Homo sapiens: one gene and its partners. The protein of the gene in region 1 interacts with the protein of each later gene in a biochemical or structural test. Each region holds a gene or a part of one and is shown on either strand. Other genes may lie near its edges. The genes, in order: MAGI1, TANC2, PDGFRB, MAP4, LPXN, PRR16 and TANC1.

Region 1 (3,893 bases):
TGGGACTTCGAGGAAACCCGACAGCGGGGCATGCCGACCCAAGGACCGGGCGCCGGAGGGACGGAGGGACGCGCAGGCCGAGCGCGCGGCAGCCGCCAACGGCCCCAAGAGGCGGTCCCCAGAGAAGCGGAGGGAGGGCACCCGCAGCGCCGACAACACTTTGGAGAGGAGGGAGAAGCACGAGAAGAGACGAGACGTCTCTCCGGAGCGGAGGCGAGAGCGGTCACCCACCCGCAGGAGAGACGGCTCCCCCAGCCGGCGGAGACGGTCTCTGGAGAGACTCCTGGAGCAGAGGAGGTCCCCCGAGCGCAGGAGAGGGGGCTCGCCCGAGCGCAGGGCCAAGTCCACCGACCGGAGGCGCGCACGCTCCCCCGAGCGCAGGAGAGAGCGGTCCCTGGACAAAAGGAACAGAGAGGACAGAGCCAGCCACCGAGAAAGGGAAGAGGCGAATCTGAAACAGGATGCCGGCAGAAGTTCCAGACATCCCCCGGAGCAGAGAAGGCGACCTTACAAAGAATGTAGCACCGACCTCAGTATCTGAGACGCTGAGTCACATTCCAACCTTTACCGTGTCAAAGGTTCTAAGAGGAAAGTCACAAACCTGAAATTATTTAGTTTCTTACCTAATGAAGCATCTGACACCTGATGATCCTATGAATAACAACAAACATTTTATGCATTTGAAATCTTATAAGAAAAAATATATATGAAAAGTATTGTGCCTGATGTATCATATTAAAGAAAGTATTTTTAAATGCATACTTTTTTGGAAATTATTTGCCAAATGCTGGCCCAAAGGGATATAAATTTTGTTTCTACGTAACCTGTAGAATCGTCAAGAATTGTTCCCGTTTTGGGGCAATCTTTTTCTCTCCTGGTTAAATGGGGCTGTTGATCATTTTCTCTACGTAAGGGAATTTATTGATTAAGTTTAATTAATTTGATATAGACTGTCATGTAGTGATGTAGTGCTATACTGTAGTCGGAAGTTTTTCTTAAAAGCAAAGAGCAAAAATGCAAAGTTTTATTTGTAAAAGCTGAGGACCCTTGGGGATGGATTAGGTTTGCCGATGATCCTAAAAGTAAGCAAACTGTATGACAAGACTACTATTGCAAATGAAGGATATTTATAGCTAAACTGCGCAGCACAAAGAAGTTTTATATTGTGAGTTATAGTTGGTTCAGAAAACAGTTTGTACTCTCCCTGGCCCAGGAAGGCACACAGACAAAAATGTCGGCCACTTTTACTCAAATACAGCCCAAGCACAGACAGTCAGGTTCGTGATCATCACCAACATCTGATAAAATCTCATTGAAGGCAATGCCATCACAGCTTTGCTCAATTACTACGAGGAAGAGACAACAAGCATCTTTCGTGTTGTCTCGTCTGATTGGAGGCTGAATAGTAGATGGAATGGGGGGACAGTGTGCCTGGTGTGAGGAAGACGTAAGATCCCCAATTTGGAAAGCATGCCCCCCTCCCTTTTAGTAGAAGCCCATGGTTGCCCTTTGCCAAACTGGGGAGGAGGCAATGAGCCTTGGTGGAAGGAACCTCTCTGTTGATATTTAAAGAAGTGAGGGCTGTGGGTATTCATTGTTAGAAATGCCAATTTCACTTTGAAACCATAGTCCAAGTCTCTAGGTTGGTAGAAGGGAAAGGAAGGAAGTGGTCCCAGTGATTCTAGGTCTGGTTGGGAAACTTCTGCCTCATGACTCTGTCCTTTGAGTCCTTTGGACAGCAGCACAAAACATAACAATTTTTATTTTTAAACAGACCCATTCTTTTTGATCCCACAGGAGCTGTGGTTGGGTCGGCCGTAGCCCCGGGATGTGGTTTAAGTGGATTACTGCCTAGCTGAGCCAAAATGTTTGCTTGTACCTGTTGGACCACTACAGCAAACCGCTGCTTACAGTGCATTGTGTATTTCTGTAGTACTGTTTTGCATTTTCCATAGAGACAGAAAACTTTGCAAGTCAATCACTGTTGTTCCCATGGTACTGTAAGAAAAAAAAAAAGGAAAAAGAAAAAAAAAAAGAAAACCAGCCAATCATTGCGTGTACAGAGCTAAAAATTGTAATTAATAGAGCCTGTTGGGAAAAAAAAGAAAACAACTGTTGCCTTTTTTTCTTGTATAAAAGAGAATTTATGACAAAATTTAGCTGTGAGGAATGTGATACGTGTTTATATTTCTGAATATGGAACAAATTGATTCATGGGGATATATTTTAATGTAAACTAAATCAGGTATGTAAAGTTGTTTTAAAATGGGAGACTATATAAGTAATTCTCTAAAGCTTTAGTTGGTTTGAATATCATCATTTCCTCCATGGTGAGCCTGCTTGTGAATTATTAAGCACTTGTTTGCATTCTCTGTTCTTCACTCATTTATTTCTTGCAGTGTGCTATGGACTTAATGCTCTTTCTGTATTGATGAAAAGCAGTATGTGGGCCAATCTTTTTATAAAACACTATGCATATATAAATATTACATTGTTCATAGCTTTATTTGACTTATGGGTTTATACATAACATTAGAATGAGTAGCTGTAGTTGTGTGGACATTTATAAAACAAGTTCCTTTCCTGGAACAGACACAATATACATTCTGTAGCTAAAAAGGAGGGAAAAGTCTGTGAATGCTATTTTTATTATTAAAGTTTTCCATACAAAGCATACATTGAGCTGTAGTAAGGCTGAGGAAGAGTACAACTGAATAATGATGTTCTTTTTCATCAAGTTCCTAAGAGCTGACTTGGAGATTTTATTCCCAGGGCTCCACTGCTAGGATTCTTCTCACTAGTTCTAACAAAATCTGTGATGTTAAATGACTGATGCTCTCAATTGTGATCCAGAGTTTTAAATAAATGAAATCAAGGTGGATTTTGGGAATATATCCTGAAGTTAACATCTTGATGTCCTTCTTGTTGTAAGATGATATTTGGCAATTTAAAATCTATGTGCTACCCACCTGGGCTTGTCTCAATCCGTGGACTTTTTGGTGTGGCAGTTTCACCTGAATTCCACACATCAGATTTGTTTGGAAATATTGTACTGTACAGGGACTATGCATTATGCAGAAAGATATAGTTTTCTTTGAACTGCTGTAACCTTAAATTGGAAACTGATTCTTGTGAGCCTACTTTCCTTAATCCCGCCGCCCCCCTCCCCCACTTAATGTAAATGTCTTGATGAGAGATAATGGATGAGTATTTTGTATGATGAAATCAAACGATTTAGGAATTTGTCTCCCTCCGTTACACAGTTGATGCCTGAAAGAATGTTGGGGGGGAGGACTCAACACCCTAATTGTATTTTTTAAGTTTCTTTTGTGAAAGATTTTTTAATGCATTTTTACTGTAAAAATACATGGAAATGTATGCATTCCACAACCACTATTGCTTCTGGATTGATATCTTCCTTGTCTCTATGTTGTCTCAAATGTATCAGGGTCAAGTAATCAATTGAGGGCCCCTGACTCCAACTTGATGAAATGCCGTTGTGTTGAAAGAGCAGGATCTATGCCATTGCAATAGCATAGTGCCTTGCTACTCAAAGTGTGGTCTGTGGACCAGCTGCCTCATCATCACTGAGGAGCTTGTTAGAAATGCAGATTCTCAGCCCTACTCCAGACCTACTGAGTCAGAATGTACAGTTAATAAGATCCTCAGCTATGCCTTATGCACATGAAAGTTTAAACAGCACAGCACAGTATAGCACAGAACCCTGATAATAAAACAAATCCTGCCAAGCTAAGAGCTTCATCACTTCTGGTGTGATTCTTGGGCACATTCCTTAACCTCCTCTGAAGCCTCCATTTCCTCATCTGTAAAAGGACATACTTCACAGAGCTAAGAATAGATACACATCTTTGGCAATCAGAAGAGTCCTCAGT
Region 2 (3,500 bases), on another chromosome or scaffold:
TATGTGTTGTTATTTCTGTTTTACAGATGAGAATCTGAAACACAGAGAGGTTAAATAACTTGCCCAATACTATATAGCTGAGAAGTAGAAGAGCTAAGTTTCCATTTAGGAATGCTAGCTCCAGAACCTGTGCTCCTCATCAATATGCTATATTGCCCTCTCACTCAAGGTAGTATTGGCAAGGCATAATTAAAATGCATGTGCCCATCATAAAGCAAGTACAATAGATGTGGATAAACCTGGACAACTCACATAGATGTTAAGTCTGCATATATACAAAAGATACAGTTATTTGCAGTGTGAACATTTCTCTTTAGGAATTTGTTTTTTAACTTATTTCTGGGATTATGCGTAGAGGAGTATTAGTACTTTTTATGTGGTTAAGGAAATATTTGTGATGGTGGTTGGTTTGAAGGGAACTTCAGAGGTAAAAAGTTAATTTCAAGTAGTTTAATATAGTGTGTGTGTGTGTGTGTGTATATAAATACACATTCATACACACACACACAGCCTTTTTAAGAGCACCAGTAAACCTTTACTGCTTATTTTCTGTAGGGAAATTAAGGATAAATTACAATATTTTTCTTCCTACTCATATTTTTATGACCTCTTTTTCATTTATATTAAAAACTACCATAATTAGCACAAATGGATTAGATGCCTATGTACATTTTACCTCTAATGTCAACAAATGTTTGTTCAGATTTTTCTCACACTTAAACATTGTTTTATAAGATATTGACCACATATGACAAAGTATTTATAAAAATGTGTAAAATATAAAGACTTCACAATGCAGCCAACACTTACATGCCTTTTACCCAGTTTAAGAAATGGAACATCATCTTTCACAATTATAATAGTTATTTTCTTCTCTTAGCCAAATTGCTTCTGCCATTCTTTTTCAACAGAAACCTTTCCTTATTGTGCTGCGAATTGCATATCTCATGTAACCAAACACTTCCCTTTTTATATACATTTGTTGATATGGGAATTCAATATAATCTACTGCTTATGGCTAAAACTTATTCAGCATATATGCTTACGTAATTTAATATATTTAATAAATTGTCATACACTCAGACTATGCTTTGTATTTGTATTGGTTACTGGTTGGTAGTTCATTTTAGCATACTTCACTTGTAAAACTTAATTTGGTTTGCAAATTAGGATTTTACTAACATTGTTAAACATTAATAGATTATTTCCCTCTTCCATCATGAATTCTTGACTGTCCCACGCTAGCTCTGTTTTTTCTTCTTTTCCCCATAACTGCCTTTGCTCTTTATTTCTTAAGTGAGTATGAATTATTTTGAATGGAGAGGGAAGGAGACCCTAGAAAGGAGTATACTAATCCAGTCATTTCAAAGGGGACTATTAGGGTAGTTGGTACTGATTGAATATATGGTAGAACAAGTGTGCATAAAAGAAATGCATGAAAATCCTCTCCTTGTCATATTTCTTCCTTTTACAGTAGAATTAAAATGAGATCTGAGACACTCTGATTGGGCACACTAGCTGAATATTGTTGGATTGAACTTACCCAGAATCACCAATGTTAGCTGGGATATTTTTGCTGACAGTACAATATGCAGATTTTAATTCAGGGAGCTAGAACAAGCTGTTGCAGAGGGCTGTTTACTCTTCTAGTACTAGTCTAATCAAGGCACCAAATATTATAAAATAGTTTGGAAGCTAGTTCAATTATTTGGACTTTTTTTTTCTTTCTGAATGACTTGAGACTCAGCATTGTTATATTTGCTTAATGTGCCTGTAGTCATCAAATGCTGTGATTATTTTGAGGGAAAGGCACTCTGTAAATATACTATACAAATAAATAGTTTAGACTTCGTTGTAATACCGTGAGAATACCGCTTGGTTTCTTTGAATAGCGTCTTTTGTAGTAACTTGCATTAGATGAAGACCGTTTAAAATGAAAAAAAAAATGAGTTAAGGAGATGTGTGTATGGTGATGCAGAGTGTATATCCCTGATGAGTTTCTTGAAAAGGCCACGGAGAGAAATAGGTTAAAGAAGAGCTTAAAGACTAGAGCTGTGTTTTCCCACTCAGCAGTCTCCTGCTGCCCTTCGCTTTCCCTTTCTTTTCTCTTTTCAAGACAGGATCTCACTATGTCTCCCAGGGTAGGGTGCAGTGGTGTGATCTTAGCTTATTGCAGCCTACGTCTCCTGGGCTCAGGCGATCCTCTCACCTCAGCCTGCTGAGTAGCTGAGACTATAGGCACGTGCCACCATATCCAGCTAATTTTTGTACTTTTTGTAGAGACAGTGTTTCACTCTGTTGTCCAGGCTCATCTCAAACTCCTGGACTCAAGTGATCCACCTGCCTTGGCCTCCCAAAGTGCTGGGATTACAGGTGTGAGCCAACTGTGCCCAGCCAGTTTTCTTTCTTTTAGAGCAGGGGTCTCTAACCCCTGGACCATCATGGCCTGTTTGGAACCAGGGTGCACAGCAGGAGGTGAGTGGCTGGCCAGCCAGCATTACTGTGTGAGCACCTCCTCCTGTCAGATCAGCAGCTTCATTAGATTCTCATAGGAGCTTGAACCCTATTGTGAACTGCTCATGAGAGGGATCCGGGTTGTCCGTCCTTATGAGAATCTAATGCCTGATGATCTGAGGTGGAACAGTTTCATCCCCAAACCATCTCTGCCCCCCTACCCTCTGGAAAAATTGTCTGGAAAAACGTCCCTGTTGCCAAAAAGGTTGGGGACCGCTGTTTCAGAGGACATTTTACTTTGCGTATTTAAGATTCAAGGTAATATTAGATGGAGAACAGGAACTTTGGGTCTGAGTTTTAGAAGGCTAAAGCAGGTTACGCAATTAGTGAAAAAACTTTCTGGGACCTTTTTTTTTCTAGAAGGGTCAAAGTAACTATAATACCATAATTTTTTCTGGAAACAAATTTATTAGGTCAGTTTATTTTAAAAAATCTTTATAAATTATGTGAAAGCTGTGTTTGTGGATATGTCATATAAGTTGTTTTTTTGTTGTGGGCCACACATGACGTATCTTGTTATGTTCGGTCTCTTGTTTGCTCTTGAATAGTTAAAGGTAAGCATTACTAAATTTAAGAGTCAAAATAATTGTGTTAGTGTTCTATTATGCCTTTTCTTCCCCGTAATATCAATTTCTGTCTTTATTCACTACATGGTTTATAGTGCATCTTAAACTCCTTTCTTTGTTTATCAGAACTTAAGAGAGTCTCATGTCACTCATTTAAACTGAGTAGTTGCATTATAGAAATGATCTTGTTGGTGTGTTTTTTTAAAAATCCAATTGCTGAGGAAACACCTTTAGTGTTTTTGTCAACTTTGCCTACATTTCTTCCATTGCGTTGCTTCCAGAGTGATCTTTCTAGATAGTCATTTGATCATGTCACTTTTTTCTTCAGAATCTTTCACTGGCTCCTCATCACTGAATGGATAAAGTGGAAACTCCTTAGCAAACCGTTTAAGGTCCTTAATGATCTGGTCCCTGCCTCCT
Region 3 (3,500 bases), on another chromosome or scaffold:
CAGCCTGGGCAACAAGAGTGAAACTCCGTCTCAAAAAAATAAATTAAAAAATAAAGTCGTCAGCCTTATCTTTTCGCCTTCTTTGTCCCAACTTCTCCTTTCACTCTTTCACGCTGTCTTTTGAGCTGGGTAAAGCTGAAGCTGACAGTTTGAGTGGGAAACAGTCACTCCATTTTTCACAGAGCCCTACAGTCTTAGTACATTCCCTCTATTCACATCTCCCCCACCTTCTCTGCAATTGCACACCTCCCATGACAGGGCTCTCACCACCTCACCTGTGGCCCATTTCATTCTTAGCCAGCTTAGAATCTTCAGAGGGCAGACTATTGAGAATTGTTAATTACACTGAGTACAGTTTATCTCACTGTATTCTCTGCTTATTGGTCTTGCTTCTATCCACCAACCACCCTCTCCCCAAATACAGGACATCTTTCTAGTTATTGTTCTGATCCCCCCCAATCTGGAAACAAACAAAAGTCCCTACTAATTTAGAGCCAGGCACTCTGCTAAATGAGATGATCTGGAGATTTTGTTTCATCCTCACGACCACCCTGTGAGGGGGGTACACTCATTATTCCCATTTTACAGAGGAGAATGATGAGTCTCAGAGACTTTTGGTAACTTTCCCAAGGTCACACAATAAGTAAGATGCAAAGGAACGGGAATGCAAACTCAGGCCGGCCTGACTCCAAAGCCTATATTCTTTCTTTTTTTTAGAGACAGGGTCTCGCTCTGTTGCCCACGCTGGAGTACAGTGGTGTGGTGGCATGATCATAGCTCACAGCTCACTATAGCCTCAAACTCCTGGGCTCAAGTGATCCTCCCGCCTCAGCCTCCTGAGTAGCTGGGACTACAGGTGCGCATCACCACAACTGCCAAAACCTGAATTCTTGCCCGTCATGCCAGACTGTCTGTCTCCTGACCAGAAACAGTTCTGTCCATCTGTCCACAGAGAAACGTTCTCCCTCTAATGGCGTCCATACGGAATCCAGGATCTCAGGGATGAGAAGATCCTCAGGGATCTGGGTCCCGCCTCTGCTCTGACTGAGGGGCAGTGTATGCGGGAGGCCTGCCCCGGGTCACCAATAATTTTAAAGTCGAGCTAGGGATAGAACCCAGGACTAGGGATAGAACTCCACAATTTCGCTGCAGAGGCTGAGGGTGAGCACACAAGGCTGAGGAGAGAGTTTTTGCTTAGGAAAGCCAGGGTCTGGCAGGGGCAGTGCTCCTGCGGGATACAGCATCCAGGCAATCAGCCCAGGTGTGTGGCCGGCTCTGCCACAGGCCTGCTGTGCACAGGGTCCAGGCCTGCCCCTGTGGGGGCCCCAGCACCCCCTTCCACTGTTTGCAGAGGGCCAGGGCCTCTGTAGCTGCAGAGTTCCAGGCCTCCACCATCCTGCTGCTGCCCTCCCCATCCCCACCCCCCAGAGCCTCATCTCCGGCCGGTGCCATGGCAACAGGGAGTGCCAGGCCCTTGGCAGCCAAAGGAGCCCCTGAGAGGGGTCCCAGGCTGAGACTGAGGAGGGGGGTGCGGCAGGCGCAGACAAGCAAACCTTCTGTTCCCCGGGCTGCTGCCAGCCCGGAGCAGCCATGGGCTGGGGTGGGGGCCGCAAATAGAATGGGTTCTCAGAGCCAAGTGGGCAGGGGACAGGCAGGCCTTGGGCCATTCACACTGACCCACCAGCACACAGCCTTCCCCCACAGGCCCAGGGCCTGCAAATAGGGGAGGGGTAGCTAGCTAATGAGTAAACCCTTCACTTATCAGTGCCAATTACCAAACATTGAGATTCCCCTCAGAGCCCTCCTGGGCGGCAGAGCAGGAGGGCAGAGAACCCCCATGTTTCACTGACCCTCTCACTGTCTCAGCATCTGTCCTCCCACCCCTGTCTTCGGTCATTCACTTAACCACCCCTCTGTGCCTCAGTTTTCTCATCTGTAGATTGGGGCTCATCACTGGGTTGTCAGGGCTATTGAAGGAGTTAACACAAGCAAAATGCTTAGAATAGGGCCTGGCACACAGCCCTCTGCAAAGTTGGTGGCCACATTATTATTATTCATTCACTCAAGGGAGAAGAAGTCACTCACTCACTCGGCCTTGCGCGCACAGCCAAGACTCCACGGGACTAGGCTTCTCAGCAAAGTGATGCATGTGATAAATGAGACGGTGCAAGAAGGCCTCTCCCAAAAGACGCTCCTCAGGAAGAGGTAGCTGCTGATTATTGGTACAATCAGTAGCAACAGCCCTTTTCAGTGTCCTGAGGCTCAGTGAGGAGTGTCTCATCCTAGCACACTCGGCGATTCGGTGGCCAACCTAAGGCCAGACCCATCTAATCACCACTGTCTGTCAATTACTTCTTTCCTGAACTTTTGTCTTAGTCCTTTAATATGACTTCCCACAAATCAGGATACCTACCTAACAACGATCTGGACTCTCTTCAACTTCCTAATATGGAATTAGGCCTACAGTAGGTGCTCAGTAAACGCTTACACGATATGAGAGATTAAATGGCTCTGTAGGGTCAGCTCTTCAGTCCTGGGCCCTCGGCTGCCTCCTAATAACACAGGATTCACTAGGCTAGGGAACTGGCATGGATAGGCAATGGTGACTCTTTCCTTCCAGGGAGGTGATGGAGATGAGCTGGTGAGGGCAGAACAGACATATGGCACTCTGAAGCCAACAGGCTGCGCCTGATGCCATCCAGGGCAGGGATGGGAGCCCCGCCAGGCTGGGAGCAGTGGTTCCAGCTGGAAGCCACTTATTCCTGGGTCCAAGCCCCAGTTCTCTGAGTTTAACTTATCTGAGTCCCAATTTCCTGGGAAATGGCATGGGAGACCTCCTTTTCCATTTCTGGGAGGGCCAGAGATGATGACGCACAGCACTTGGCACATCATAGGTGCCCAGTAAATGGTGACTAACAACAGTATATGATTACTCCAGTGGGGAGAGCGGGTATGGCTTCCTGAGGGAGGTGGCCTTGAGCTAGGCCTCCAGGGTTTCTTGAGTTTTTTGGCAGATGATGCCAGGGAAAGGTATGGCCAGGGCTCTGTGAGAGATGAAAGGCATCTGGGAGAAATGGCAGGGAGAGATCTGTTGGGCTAGAAACTGGGGCTCTTCAGCAAACAGGTAGGTGATGGCCTGGGAAGGAGGCAGCAGGAGGCCAGGGAAGGAGGCAGGGAGACTTCAGGAAAGGTCTGCGGTGCTGTGTGAGGATTTTCTCTGGACCACCAACTTTTCAAGGTGTTGATAGTGATGGCGGGTAGTAGCTGCTGGCTTGGCAGGGCAATGCTGTAACTCCAGGCACTGTGGGGAGGGGGCCTCCATGCAGGAGGATGACACCAGCAGGCTGGCATTTAGTGGGAGGCTGTGGATTAGGATGGGGACAGTGGAGGCTGCAAGGCCAGTGTTGGGGATGAAGCCGTCCCAAACTCAGCCTGAACTCCCTGGCAGGACAAGCTACATAATTTGTGGGGCAAGCACAAAATGGAAATGCAGGGCTCTT
Region 4 (3,500 bases), about 17 Mb from region 1:
GTTTTGTTTTGTTTTGTTTGTTTTTTTTTTGAGACAGAGTTTCGCTCTGTTGCCCACGCAGACAGAGTGAAGTGGCGTGATCTCGGCTCACTGCAAGCTCCGCTTCCCGGGTTCACGCCATTCTCCTGCCTCAGTCTCCCGAGTAGCTGGGACTACAGGCGCCTGCCACAGCTCCCGGCTAATTTTTTGTATTTTTAGTAGAGGCGGGGTTTCACCATGTTAGCCCGGATAGTCTCGATCTCCTGACCTCTTGATCCAACCGCCTCGGCCTCCCAAAGTGCTGGGATTACAGGCGTGAACCACCGCGCCCGGCCTAAGAGGTATTTGATATTTAAAATCAGCTGCATATATTGCCAGGAAGACACAGACTAATAAAAAACAATGCAAAAAAAGTTTTTTTTCTTTTTTTGAGACAGAGTCTCGCACTGTCGCCTGGGCTGGAGTGCAATGGCACGATCTCGGCTCGCTGCAATCTCTGCCTCCCAGGTTCACGCCATTCTCCTGCCTCAGCCTCTCAAGTAGCTGGGACTACAAGCACACACCACCACACCTGGCTAATTTTTTTGTATTTTTAATAGAGATGGGGTGTCACTATGTTGGCCAGATTGGTCTCGAACTCCTGACCTCATGATCCACCCGCCTTGGCCTCCCAACGTGCTGGGATTACAGGTGTGAGACACCGCGCCCGGCCGACAACGCAAACAAGTTTTAAAGGAAACACTGCTGACATTCTTCAGGTTTTAGCTAGTTGTTAGTAGGTGGTATAGTATATCCCAGTAGTGCCATTAATCAACATTCACTGGCTACTTTCTATATAATATATAAAGGGTAATATAAAGATTCAAAATATTAATGATTGAACTCTAGTTCCAACACCACAACCAACATAATATACTATAGTAAAAAACTGCGAGTCTTAATTTCTTCATCTGCAAAATGAGATTAACACCTCCCTTTCCAACATTAGAAGACAATTTTATTAAAATACTTTGTAGCAGTTTTGTTGTTGTTGTTGTTGTTGTTGTTTGCCCAGCTAATTTTCTTATTTTTATTATATTTATTTATTAATTTTTGAGATGGATTCTTGCTCGTTGCCCAGGCTGGAGTGCAATGGCACAATCTCAGCTCACTGCAACCTCCACCTCCCAGGTTCAAGTGATTCTTCTGACTCAGCCTCCTGAGTAGCTGGGATTATAGGTGTCTGCCACCACTCCCAGCTAATTTTTGTATTTTTAGTCGAGACAGTGTTTCACCATGTTGGCCAGGCTGGTCTCGAACTCCTGACCTCAGGTGATCTGCCCACCTCCGTCTCCCAAAGTGCTGGGATTACAGGCATGAGCCACCACACTCGGCCTAATTTTTCTATTTTTAGTAGAGATGGGGTTTCACCATGTTGGCCAGGCTGGTCTCAAACTCCTGACCTCAGGTGATCTGCCCGCCTCTGCCTCCCAAAGTGCTGGGATTACAGGCATGAGCCATTAGGCCCAGCCTAATTTTTGTATTTTTAGTAGAGACGGGATTTCACCATTTTGGCCAGGCTGGTCTTGAACTCCTGGCCTCAAGTGATCCATCCGCCTTGGCCTCCCAAAGTGCTGGGATTACGGGCGTGTGCCACTGCACCCAGATGGTTTTTTTTTTTTTTTTTTTTTTTTAAGACAGGGTCTCAACTCTGTTGTCCAGGCTGGAGTACAGTGGCATGATCATGGCTCAATGCAGCCTCGACCTTCTGGGCTCAAGCAATCCTTCCACCTCAGCCTCTTGAGTAGCTGAGACTACAGGCATGTGCCACCACGCCTGGATGAATTTTAAAATTTTTTGTAGGACAGGATCTCCCTATGTTGCCCAGATTGGTTTCAAATTGCTGGGCTCAAGCAATCCTGTCACCTCAGCTTCCCAAAGTGCTAGGGTTACAGGCATGAGCCACTGTGTCTGCCTGTAAATGAAGAAGTAGAAAAATGTGGCTGGGTGCAAAGGCTCACGCCTGTAATCTCAGCACTTTGGGAGGCTGAAGCGGGTGGATCACTTGAGCCCAGGAGTTCAAGACCAGCCTGGGCAACGTGACAAAACCCCATCTCTACAAAAAATTAGCCAGGCATAGTGGTACACACCTGTAATCCCAGCTGCTCAGGAGATTGAGGTGGGAGGATCACCTGACCAGGAGGCCAAGGCTGCAGTGGGCCGTGATCGCATCACTGCACTCCAACCTGGGTGACAGAGTGAGACCCTGTCTCAAAAAAAAGGGGAGATGACAGCCCAACTGTGAATCTGTGAATTGTCTCCTTTGATTAATCCAAAGAGAGCCTTGTCACACCCACAGCCCCTAAATCTGACTTTTCTTAGTGGTTAGCTTCAAAGGTGATGTGTGAAAGGCCATGTTGATTGTTTGGCATTAAACAACTAAAGGACACCAGAATATGCCACCCCAAAATACGCTACTTTGGCATAAGGACTTTTTTAAGCTGAAGGCTATTATTAGCCTGGAGATGGCACCATAGGAATCTACACAGCAACCTTTACTAACTAGCTTTTACCTACCATTTACCTGTCTCCCACAATTTGCGGCCCCTAGAGACTCAAAAGTCTTTTCCTTCATCTTCTCACCTCTCAAAAAAAAAATTTGTCATTCTTTATTGAAGAAGCTATATAAGGTGGAATTCTAAAGCCACCTCTTGCGGAGTTACTCATTCCCTAGGTACCTCTCATGTACATATTAAATTCACATTTTAAACTTTGGTCTCTTTTTTCTTGTTAATCTTTTGTCACAGAGCCCTAGTCAGTGAACCAAAGATGAGTAAAGAAAAAATTTTTTTCCTTCCCTACAGAATAAATCCATTTGAAGAAGCCATACCGTAACTGTCTTTCAAGGGATCATTTTGTCCTGCAAATATTGAAGTATCAGCTGTCGCACTGGAGGGAAAGACCAAATCTGCCAGGTCATCATCATGGTACATCTTAAAGGGATCTGGAATATAGAAGAAATCCAAAACTCATTCCTGGTGAATGCAACTAGAAAGATTAATATTTCTTTCTTTCTTTCTTTTTTTTTTTTGAGGTGGAGTCTTGCTCTGTTGCCAAGGCTGGAGTGCAGTGGTGCCATCTTGGTTCACTGCAACCTCTACCTCCCAGGTTCAAGCAATTCTCCTGCCTCAGCCTCTTAAGTAGCTGGGATTACAGATGCCCGCCACCATGCCTGGCTAATTTTTGTATTTTTTTGTAGAGACAAGGTTTCTCCACGTTGGCCAGGCTAGTCTCAAACTCCTGATCTCAAGTGATCTGCCCACCTCGGCCTCCCAAAGTATTAGGATTACAGGCGTGAGCCACCATGCCTGGCCAATATTTCTTATTATCCTATGATGAATATAGATGAGTTGTCAATAGTAAGTAAACCGAAATCATATGTGACTGCACATGGTAGAGAATCAATATTCACTAATTCATTTGTTATGAGTTAATAATAAATAATCCCTTCTCTAAGATTTGGTTATGTACATCAGATAGCC
Region 5 (3,500 bases), on another chromosome or scaffold:
AGTCCCAAGTATCTACTCAAATATTACTTCCTTAGAGGGGCCTTCTTTGATTATTACCTCCATCTAAATCAATTCTTCTTACCATCTTGCTGTGTCCCTTCTATCTCTTTCTATAACTTATCTCTGTCTGACATTACAACATATATTTATTTATTTAATTATTTATTGTCTATCGCCCACAGAATGCAATTCCATGAGGCCAGACACTTGGTCTGTCTTATCTTTGCTTTAATCCAAGTGCTTAGAGCAGTGATTGGCACAAACCAGGTATTCAACAATTATTGCCAAATAAATGAGTAAAAGGGAGATGTGACTAATTTTTGAACTGGGGTCATCCTAAGATCTTCAAAGGGTATCATCTTCATGTACTAAATTTCCTACATTAAGAAAAGATTTACAAATATAAAATTAGTCAGATTTCATTTGGCCTGAGGAGTTTAGGATGAAAGGGAGATGAAAAGATTTTTATTGGTGTTGAAATTTTAGATTTTTCCAATGTCTTGCAGGAAGGTTGGGGAAAGGCCAAGAGATCAGTCAGTAGAGGTGAATTTATAGAGTCATTAGAAGATGCCAATGAGAATAAAAATGAGGCTGATTCTGTTCTTGGTTCTTCCCTTGGGCCAGGTTGCAGTGAGAGCAGATGCTGGCAAGAAGCACTTACCAGACAAGCAGGATCACAAGGCCTCCCTGGACTCAATGCTTGGGGGTCTGGAGCAGGAATTGCAGGACCTTGGCATTGCCACAGTGCCCAAGGGCCATTGTGCATCCTGCCAGAAACCGATTGCTGGGAAGGTGAGATGGGCTGAAATTTTGGTCCTACAGCCTTCTTTGTCTCTCTCTGTCTCATCAAGGTTTGCTCTTTCCCCTTATATTTTAAGATATTTTAGTTAGCATTAATAATTACTAATCACTTACAGTGCTCTGGCCACTGAGCTAAGTGCTTTACAAGTATTTCCTCATTTAATGGTCACATCAGCCCTTCAAGAAGAATGATTGCTCCCTTTGTAAAGATGAGGAAACTGAGGACTCAGAGACATTAATGGACATATCCAAGGCATAATAAGAGGTAGAGGTAAGATCTGAAACCAGGAGACTGTCTCCTGAGTTTGAGTTCTTGACCATTTTTCTGTACTGCCTTTACTGAGATGACCTTTCTCACTGCTCCCTTTGTTCACACATTCCCAGTCTAAATTGATTGATTACAATTTTCAGCTGAACTCAGCTCCAAGTCACAGCTGCAAACTCCTGTTCTGCATCGTCCTTCACCGAAGCTATGATAAAAAGCTTTGAGACCTGACTGCATGGGGCGTGGAATAAAGTGTTCAAACTAGAGGAATAAAAACTGTCATTTGGCCTTTTCCTCTTCCAGGGGTCCCTTCCACACTAAGGCTACAGTTACAACTTCTCTGTCATCAATGTGCTATATGTTGTTTCTGCCACCCCCTGTGGCAGTGCAGTGGTTGTGAACATTTACAGGCTTTCATCACAGTGATCAGTCCCGGAAGTGGGCATCCTTTTATTATCAATCCATAAAGCACAGACCACAGATGGCCTTAGGTGGAACCTAGGTCTAGGCCTCAGTGTTGTATAATTCCAGGGCGTGTTGTCTACAAGGGGTACAATGTGAAGAGTGCTCCCTAGAGTTGTGCAACCTGTAGGCTGTAGAGCACTCAACTGGCCTCCTGTGTCAGGCTTTATTTCACTCCACAGGTGATCCATGCTCTAGGGCAATCATGGCATCCTGAGCATTTTGTCTGTACTCATTGCAAAGAAGAGATTGGCTCCAGTCCCTTCTTTGAGCGGAGTGGCTTGGCCTACTGCCCCAACGACTACCACCAACTTTTTTCTCCACGCTGTGCTTACTGCGCTGCTCCCATCCTGGATGTAAGTAAATCCCCGCTCCTCTCCAGCTTTCAGTCACTCACTTAGAACCAGAGTCATGCTTTACAACTTCTGCATCATTATAATATCTGTGTGTTCCCTTTCCAGAAAGTGCTGACAGCAATGAACCAGACCTGGCACCCAGAGCACTTCTTCTGCTCTCACTGCGGAGAGGTGTTTGGTGCAGAAGGTATGACCCGACTTGAGAGGCTGTATCCCACACCCCAGTGGGTAGTTATAAGACCAGCAACACCTTTCCTGGTAGTCACGGGAGTCCTGGTTCCTATCAGTACTATCAAAGTGCCCATTTCAGTACTAGATACCATCCCTCCCTACCTTTCTCCAACATTTATAATTTCCCTTTAAATTGATTTTTTAAATCACAGAAATACAAATGCATAGTTTAAAAACTCAAATATTACTTCAAGGGTAATATTGAAAAAGCCTTTTCTTGTTGAATATTGAAAAAGTCCCTTTCTCATCTCCAAATCCAGTTCTCCTCTCCAAATTATTTTAGCTGTTTCTTCTGATATTTACTTATTTTTTGTTGTTGTTGTTGTTTGTTTTTTTGAGACGGAGTCTCACTGTGTTGCCCAGGCTGGAGTGCAGTGGTGCGATCTCTGGTGCGATCTCCGCCCACTGCAACCTCCACCTCCTGGGTTCAAGCGATTCTCCTGCCTCAGCCTCCCAAGTAGCTGGGACTACAGGCACTTGCCACCACACCCGGTTAATTTTTGTATTTTTAGTAGGGACAATGTTTCACCATATTGGCCAGGCTGGTCTTGAACTCCTGACCTCGTGATCCGCCCGCCTTGGCCTCCCAAAGTGCTGGCATTACAGGCATGAACTACTGCGCCTGGCCTGCTTATGTGTTTTAAATAATAACTTTATATTGTTATAGATTGTTTTATTTTTCCAGTTTTAACCATTATGTATTGACTGTCTAAGAGGGAAGATGAGGTTTAGAAATGTTATTATTACCCCACTCACTCCTAACATATTTCCCCTCCCCTGTTTTTTCAATATATAATTATGTCATAATTACAGGTTAGATCAGTATTAAGTGTGCATATGTTGACAATCATAGAATACTGCTCACAAGTAAGCCATGTAGCAAACTGACTACACTAGAGTCTGGATTTTAGAGTCAGACTTCCAGGTTCAAATCTGGGTTGTGGTATTTGTTCAAGTCATTTAACATCTCTGTACCTTACTTTCCTCATCAGTAAAATAGTCCTAATGAAATTGCCTACCTTATAGGGTTGTTATGAGGATTTAGAGACAATACAAGCGTGGTATTTAGAATAGTGCCAAGCACATGGAGGTATAGTAGTGTTAATATTATTATCACAGTGTCCTTTTGGTATAAATTCATTTTTTTCTAAAGTTAACATTTGAATCCTTTTTGAAATTGGCTTAGTTTTTATTGTACTTATCACTAAGTTATGCAACAGAACTGTGAAATTCTTTTCAAAATGGCCAACTACATCTGGCAACAAGTCAGTTTCTTTCTTTTCTTTTTTTTTTTTCTGGAGATATCCCTCCAGGAGACTTTCCTCCTCCTGATTCAACATGAAATGATTTCTTCCTGCTGAGTAGCAGTCATTCTGGTTCATTAA
Region 6 (3,500 bases), on another chromosome or scaffold:
AATATAAATTATCGGCGAGCTCTTCTTAACTTGCAACAGAAATTAAAAATAAAAAAGTAGTTATGACTATATCACTATGGCAGTCATCATATAGTATTTATTTTTTCTTTCTGCTTTTAAAAAATATCTAGTTAAAATGCAATCTTCTTTAATTCTGTTCTTTGTTTTTGTGTAATTTCTGCACCAACAATATTAAACTTTGGTTTGAGGTTACTCTGAAATTGCTTTTCTTCATAGAAGTTTTCTGGGCTTAAGTCATCTGAAAACTCAGGTAGTAGGATAGAATCAAACATAATAGTAATTGCTTGAAACACTTTAATAAGTAGTGACAAAACTCTAGTCTGCTCAGCAAGAAGAGTTGTTATTTTGGGTATCTGTTTTATGATTATTTAGTTATAATTACTTAATCAGTTATAATTGGATTATATATTAGAAGCAGAGGAACAGGCTTTCTAGAAAGTCAAAGAGCAGCCTTATTCTACTCTCAGAATTTAGTAAAATCTCAAATAATTTGACTTTTCAGAAATAATATGGGTCCTTTTGTTTTCTATGCTATTAATATATTGGAAAAGCCTTAAATATAATTCAGTATACTTATTGAGCACCTACCATGTTCCAAGTACTATAACACCTTTTAAATTGCTACCAAGATGAATAAGGCATAGTTTCTGGTCTCAGTGAGCTCCAAAGGTTAGTTAGGGATATATTTATCCTGTCTTCCAACATCAGCAGTATAAAAAGACATTGTGGCCTTTAGTGGCCACTCTCACTGCAGGCTTGGGGAAATCGAGAATTGAGAATGAGAGTGAGTATATGTTGATTTATAAAATGATGTGTGCTGCATACTTAGTAGTATGGCAAGTCTTTGATGAAGAAATAAGCTTAAAAAGATGAAAATATATGAATTTTAAGAAATTTACAGTTGACTTAGATTGTCATGGTTAACATAAATGGATCAATACCATATACAGGAGATTACATATTCAAATGTTGTAACTAAATACTGAAGATTTCCATGAAAGCTAAGTCTTTTGGAGAAATGGAGAGTTAAAAAGGAAGATTTTGAATTCTTCTTTTTCTTAATGTAAATAGGGTTTTAAGAGGTAGTCACAGGTAAAAGGAAATAGGTTTGGACTACAAGAGTAATCCATGTTGCATTTTTCTACACATTGAAAAAAAAGAAGAAAATAGTGGTGAAACTCTAGAGTTTTAGTGATAAAATTAACCATAACTGGTAGAGTAGGTGTGAGTGATACTTTTTCACTAAGAAATGTAGAAACAAAGCAATTGCTTTTTAAAATAGTTCTCAAATAATCTAATGCCTTTGAGTAGCAATATGCCTGTTCTTTTATGAAGATCTCACTGGTAAACTATTTTGCATTAAATGCTGGTATTAATATGGGATCACATATCTTATTGGTCAGAGTGACACTGGAATCTGTAATAATCAGCCTTTTATCTGGAAACAAAACTAATTGCAGCTTTAGCTGGATTCTCTTTTAGTTTAGACTTGTTATAACCTTGAGCTTTTCTTGTAGTGTTTATTTTTATGATTTCAAGTAACAAGGCTACTATATGAGTTGAAAAACATATGTAAATAATTTCTTGAGAGGCTTTCTGAATAGACATGACTCTAACAGAGAAACTAAAATAAAGTTGTTTTGTTGTTGCCTTAGAATCACTCAGTGACTGGATCTCCATTGGTGAGAAGTATGTCAGCATTGTTGCCATGGACTGGAAAGCACCCATAATTTGTCTTACAATGGCATAAACTGAAATAAATTTAAGTTGAATTTTGAACAATTTGAACCCCATAGGAAACAGTCTGATTTGAACTGATGAAAACAGAATTAACAATTATCTGAAAAATATTTTCACTTCTAAATGTTCCCTCTTTTAATGTCTTAACCACTTGATGTTCTATAGTTTATTGTCTGGAAATTCCTACCGAGTATTTTTTGGTTAATGAGCCCATGCATAAAAAATTCGTTACAAGAAAAAATTATAGAGAATAATCTCGGAACTATTTTCTTTTTGTTTGAGACAGTATCTTGCCCTGTCACTTAGGTTGTAGGGCAGTGTTAGAGATCTTGGCTCACTGCAGCCTCCATCTCTTAGGTTGAAGGAGTCTTACCACCTCAGCCTTCTGAGTAGCTGGGACTAGAGGCATGCGCCGCCATGCCTGGCTAATTTTTAATTTTTTTTTTTTTGATAGAGATGGTGTCTTGCCATATTCCCCAGGCTGATCTTGAACACCTGTCTTCAAGTCATCCTCCTGCTTAGGCCTCCCAAAGTGGTAGAATTATAGGTATGAGCCACCATGTCTGGCTTGAAGTATTTTCCAAGTTCTAAAGTTGTGTATAAATAGAATTTAGTAGTTCTTTTAATTGTAGCAATAGTCATACTTTTACTACTTTATACCACAGTCTACCTCCCCAAACTGTGGTATATTTACCAAATGCTAAAATGCTCTGAAATTTTTCTTTACTTAGGCATGATGGCCTAGCAGTTACCAAAAATAATTTTGAGAACATAGAGGTAGCCAATAATCATCCATCACTGTCTATTTCCAATGAATTAAAACATTCAACACTTAGAGAATTAGCTGATAAGAAATTCAAGCAGCCTTAAAGTAATAGATAGTGTGTTTCAGGCAACAGTGAAGTAATAGATAATAAAGCCAGTGTAATAGGTTTCATTATTACCTGGATTATGTTATTTTCATCCTTGCTTCTCTGAGGATCTCAGGTACTTAAATCTAAATGTAGGAAAAAAGATAGAAATGCAAGTTTGAGCAAAACATATTTTCCCAAACTATAGAACTTTTCTTCTGTAGAGATAGTTCTTGAAAAATTTCAGGGGCAATTTTAGAGATTTAGAGTAATAAAATTCCAGTAGGTCGCTGATTCAACTCTGATTGAAATATACATGACTGACATCAAGCTGCAAATACAAAGTTAACAAACAACAAAGGGCACTATTAAAAAAATCAAATTTATTTTTTCTGATGTTAGGAGCAGCACATGAATATTATAGAAAGTTTGCAAAAATCTAAAGAAATATAAAGGAGAAAACAAAAATTATCTTTAGTACCACATAAAAATAAGTATACTAAACATTTTGTCATATTTTCTTTTAGTCTTTTTGTATGCATATTTTAACATAGATGAAGTTATACAAAGTTATAAATTATAAGCAATGACATTTTCTACTTTCTTGAATGATATAGATCGTAACTATTACACAGATTTGCTATAAGTTACTTCATACTTCCCTTAATATTGGGTATTCTATTTATTTCCAGCTTTTCATGGTTATTAAACGTCACTAGAAAGAGCAGTTTTGGCAATATGAATATCTAACAGAGGTCTTACTCTCTGCCAGGTACTCTTCTCAGCGCATTTATTTATATTAAATTATCTAATTCTCAAAACAGGTAGATGAGGAAGTTACTGATATTGCCCATTTTACACATAAGAAATCTGAGGTCCGAGATAGTA
Region 7 (3,500 bases), on another chromosome or scaffold:
AAAATTTATATTTTTATTGTATTTATTGTATTTTATTGTGTTTATTGTATTGTTATCTTTTTTCCAGTGGTCAGTTACTAGAATATTTTTTGAATATTTTCTAACCTAGGTTTGTTGAATCTGTGGCCATGGAACCTGAGATATGGAGGGTTGGGTGTGGAGGGGGGTGACTGTGCTTACTACTATAATCCTGCTTTTGATTAGTTTTCCACTGGCCATGTACTTAAGGGTAAGGTGGATGCGTCCCCTGCCCCAGGGAGTGAATTTTGATTAAGCCATCAATTTTAGTAATGCCATACCTTTTGCCAGTGACTCATTAATGAATATGTATGTGACGCCTGTTAGGTCCTGGCATATTTGAAGCATAAGGTTGTCAGCACAAGAGAACAAGTAGCACCGAGTGCAGACTAAAGGTGGCCTAAGACCACAATTACTTTTTTTTTTTTTGTCGGTGTCAGGGGTGTAGGAGGCGGGCGGGTAGAGACAGGGTCTCACCATGTTGCCCAGGCTCGTCTCGAACTCCTGGCCTCAAGCAATCCTTCCACCTCAGTTTCCCAAAGTGCTGGATTACAGAGTGAACCACCATCCCCAGCCCACAATGACTTATTTTAGCTGCTGATTAGCCAGCCCTAGAACCACTGTGACTCAGAACTTCTGTGAGAAAAAACATTTTCGTTATTGTTTCTTTCTTATCTTTTTTTTTTTTTTTTTTAAGCTAGGGTCTCACTCTATCACCCAGGCTGGACTGCAGTGGCATGATCATGGCTCACTGTAGCCTCTGCCTCCTGGGCTCAAGTGATCCTCCCACCTCAGCCTCCCAAATAGCTGGGACTACAGGTGTGCACCACCACACCTGGCTAATTTTTGTATTTTTTGTAGAGATGGGGTTTCCCCATGTTGCCCAGGCTGGTCCCGAACTCCTGGGCTCAAGGGATCCTCCCACCTTGGCCTCCCAAAGTGCTGGGATTACAGGTGTGAGCCACTGTGCCCAGCCTCATTATTGTTTAAGATCAGTGGTCCCCAGAGTGGAGTGTGCTAGATCATCCAATATGGGAGGGAAGAAAATATTCAAGAATGTTAGAAAAAATTAAGCTTTTAAAATATTTAATGTATGAGTTGACACTGGTTGGTATATCTGGTAGTCTTTTATCAACTTACATTATATGAGGTTGCCTGAGGGAAGACTGGGCCTTTTACAACCTGGTGGAATTGACAGTGGTACCCTCATTCTTATTCTTGCCTTTGGTGAACTCTATCCATCTAAATACATTTATGGCTAGATTATCTGGTTTTAACTAAACTGACCCCCAGAAAATGGGCGAGTGGTTTAAAAAGATTCTTGCAAAGAAAGTGTAATGATAATGATATAAGTATAAAGGAACAAGAAAATGTTCTTATGAGTTTAGAACATGACTTTTAAAACAAATTTGACAAGAAGGTGGCTCAAAAATTATGTATGGGCTGAGCGCGGTGACTCATGCCTGTAATCCCAGCACTTTGGGAGGCCAAGGCGGGCAGATCACCTGAGGTCAGGAGTTTAAGACCAGCCTGGCCAACATGGTGAAACCCCGTCTCTACTAAAAATACAAAAATTAGCCAGGTGTGGTAGTGTACACCTGTAATCTCAGCTACTCGAGAGGCTGAGGCAGGAGAATCACTTGAACCTGGGAGGTGGAGGTTGCCGTGAGCCAAGATTGTGCCACTGAACTCTAGCCTCGGCGGCAGAATGAGACTCCGTCTTGAAAAACAACAACAACAACAACAAAATTATGTTTGGATTTGTATTATTAATAAAAATGAACTTAAAAATACTGTTTGACTCCCATCCTTTAAAAGTTTTAAATGTTGTATAATGTATATACTACATTCATGTGTGTGTATACATACCATTCATAACTAGTTTTAATTACACATAAATTAATACAATTTATAATATGTTAGTATATATGTTATAAATTTTTTCCCCTGAAATTCCTGAGCTTCAATACGTTTTTAAAATTTTTTACTTTTTATTTTTTTAGAGGGAGTCTTGCTCTGTTGCCCAAGCTGGAGTACAGTGGTGTGATGATAGTTCACTGCAGCCTCCAACTCCTGGGCTCAAGTGATCCTGTCCCCTCAGACTCCCAAGTATCTGGGACTACAGGTGTGCACCATCACACCTGGCTTAATTAAAAAAAAATTTTTTTTTTGAGATGGAAACTTTCTCTGTTGCCCAGGTTGGAGTGCAGTGGTGCTGTCTCAGCTCACCATAGCCTCTGCCTCCTGGGTTCGAGTGATTGTCCTGCCTCAGCCTCCTGAATAGCTGGGATTACAGGTGTGCACCACCACACCTGGCTAATTTTTGTATTTTTCATAGACATGGGGTTTCACCATGTTGGCCAGGCTGGTCTCAAACTCCTGAGCTCAAGTGATCTGCCCGCCTCGGCCTCCCAAAGTGCTGGGATTACAGGCATGAGCCACCGTGCCTGGCTAATTTTTTTTTTTTTTTTTAACTGATAGTCCTGCGTGATCAAAAAAGCTTTGATACCACAATTTAAGTCACTTAGAGTTAGGTATTTTTGTTACTTGCAGCTGAAAGCATCATACCTGATATAAGGACAGATAAGAGTAGTAGCTGTCCCTGTTTTATTCTTAGCTTTCAAGAATCTCTGTGATCTGGACCCTAACTTGTTTGCAGGCCCAGCTGTCCTCTCCTTGTCTCTGCTAATACCACTGAACTCCTGCCCGTCCCTGATACTTTGTTTCAATTTTGCCTCTTCCCTCACCCTACCACCACCACTGAAATTTTGACTTTCAAGGGCTAGCTTAAATAAATATTGCTTTCTTATGAACATTTTTTCTGATTTACTCCCGCTTCCACATTTCAGTTTTTCTTTCCTTTTAGTCTCCCTAGTACATTGTACATTCATTATAATGTCTTTCTCTGTTTGCTTTTTATTATTAAGTTGTTCGCCTATTGGCTTTGCAGATGGGTTGTAGGCTTTTTGATGGTAGGGGGTCCTGTCTTACCTTTCTCATTTAAAAAGAAAACAATCTGTTTCTCCTTTGGGAGAAAGGGAGACAGAGAATCCACAGTTGTTAAACATCACTCTGGACTTGTTACTCTGGGGTGGGTCTCGCCTCCAGCCTTCTGGCAGCCTTAGGAAGGCAGGGAGCTCCATGTACATGAAAGGAGATTGAGGGCAGGGAGCTCACAGAACCAAGACAGCAGGACCCAGGATTCAGACCTGGAAAATTTTTATTTCCTGGCTGGTTTGTGTGCCCTCATGCATGTTATTTACAGTGCCATGTTCTTTCACATGGGAACACTGACACAGGTGAAATGGGAGGTTCCATAGGATGATAGTGCAAAAACATTAAAGACAATCCTAGCAGATGCAGTGAGTTCAAGGGAGAGTCCTTGTGGAGTAACACGAAAGGCCTGGTGGATGAGATGTATGAAGATCTAAATGCCTGCAGATAGTGAGCTGTCTGCAACTACCACAAAGCAAAATCATGGG

Evidence for each region.
Region 2: the proteins of MAGI1 (region 1) and TANC2 interact in a test that uses a peptide from one of them, tested with the Homo sapiens proteins (one large-scale study listed by IntAct).
Region 3: the proteins of MAGI1 (region 1) and PDGFRB interact in a test that uses a peptide from one of them, tested with the Homo sapiens proteins (one large-scale study listed by IntAct).
Region 4: the proteins of MAGI1 (region 1) and MAP4 interact in a test that uses a peptide from one of them, tested with the Homo sapiens proteins (one large-scale study listed by IntAct).
Region 5: the proteins of MAGI1 (region 1) and LPXN interact in a test that uses a peptide from one of them, tested with the Homo sapiens proteins (one large-scale study listed by IntAct).
Region 6: the proteins of MAGI1 (region 1) and PRR16 interact in a test that uses a peptide from one of them, tested with the Homo sapiens proteins (one large-scale study listed by IntAct).
Region 7: the proteins of MAGI1 (region 1) and TANC1 interact in a test that uses a peptide from one of them, tested with the Homo sapiens proteins (one large-scale study listed by IntAct).

Annotation. Positions count from the first base shown.
Region 1 is NC_000003.12:65,353,026-65,356,918, reverse strand, and holds the end of MAGI1 (membrane-associated guanylate kinase, WW and PDZ domain-containing protein 1), read left to right. Parts: coding exon 1-541; 3' UTR 542-3,393; downstream 3,394-3,893. UniProt on the Homo sapiens protein: Plays a role in coupling actin fibers to cell junctions in endothelial cells, via its interaction with AMOTL2 and CDH5. May regulate acid-induced ASIC3 currents by modulating its expression at the cell surface.
Region 2 is NC_000017.11:62,969,235-62,972,734, forward strand, and holds part of TANC2 (protein TANC2), read left to right. Parts: intron 1-3,500. UniProt on the Homo sapiens protein: Scaffolding protein in the dendritic spines which acts as immobile postsynaptic posts able to recruit KIF1A-driven dense core vesicles to dendritic spines.
Region 3 is NC_000005.10:150,145,846-150,149,345, forward strand, and holds part of PDGFRB (platelet-derived growth factor receptor beta isoform 1 precursor), read right to left. Parts: intron 1-3,500. UniProt on the Homo sapiens protein: Tyrosine-protein kinase that acts as a cell-surface receptor for homodimeric PDGFB and PDGFD and for heterodimers formed by PDGFA and PDGFB, and plays an essential role in the regulation of embryonic development, cell proliferation, survival, differentiation, chemotaxis and migration.
Region 4 is NC_000003.12:47,918,917-47,922,416, forward strand, and holds part of MAP4 (microtubule-associated protein 4), read right to left. Parts: intron 2,963-3,500; coding exon 2,849-2,962; intron 1-2,848. UniProt on the Homo sapiens protein: Non-neuronal microtubule-associated protein. Promotes microtubule assembly.
Region 5 is NC_000011.10:58,548,357-58,551,856, reverse strand, and holds part of LPXN (leupaxin), read left to right. Parts: intron 1-624; coding exon 625-792; intron 793-976; coding exon of another isoform or gene 977-1,060; exon of another isoform or gene 1,061-1,704; intron 1,705-1,710; coding exon 1,711-1,884; intron 1,885-1,989; coding exon 1,990-2,071; intron 2,072-3,500. UniProt on the Homo sapiens protein: Transcriptional coactivator for androgen receptor (AR) and serum response factor (SRF). Contributes to the regulation of cell adhesion, spreading and cell migration and acts as a negative regulator in integrin-mediated cell adhesion events.
Region 6 is NC_000005.10:120,467,300-120,470,799, forward strand, and holds part of PRR16 (protein Largen), read left to right. Parts: intron 1-3,500. UniProt on the Homo sapiens protein: Regulator of cell size that promotes cell size increase independently of mTOR and Hippo signaling pathways. Acts by stimulating the translation of specific mRNAs, including those encoding proteins affecting mitochondrial functions.
Region 7 is NC_000002.12:158,975,140-158,978,639, forward strand, and holds part of TANC1 (protein TANC1), read left to right. Parts: intron 1-3,500. UniProt on the Homo sapiens protein: May be a scaffold component in the postsynaptic density.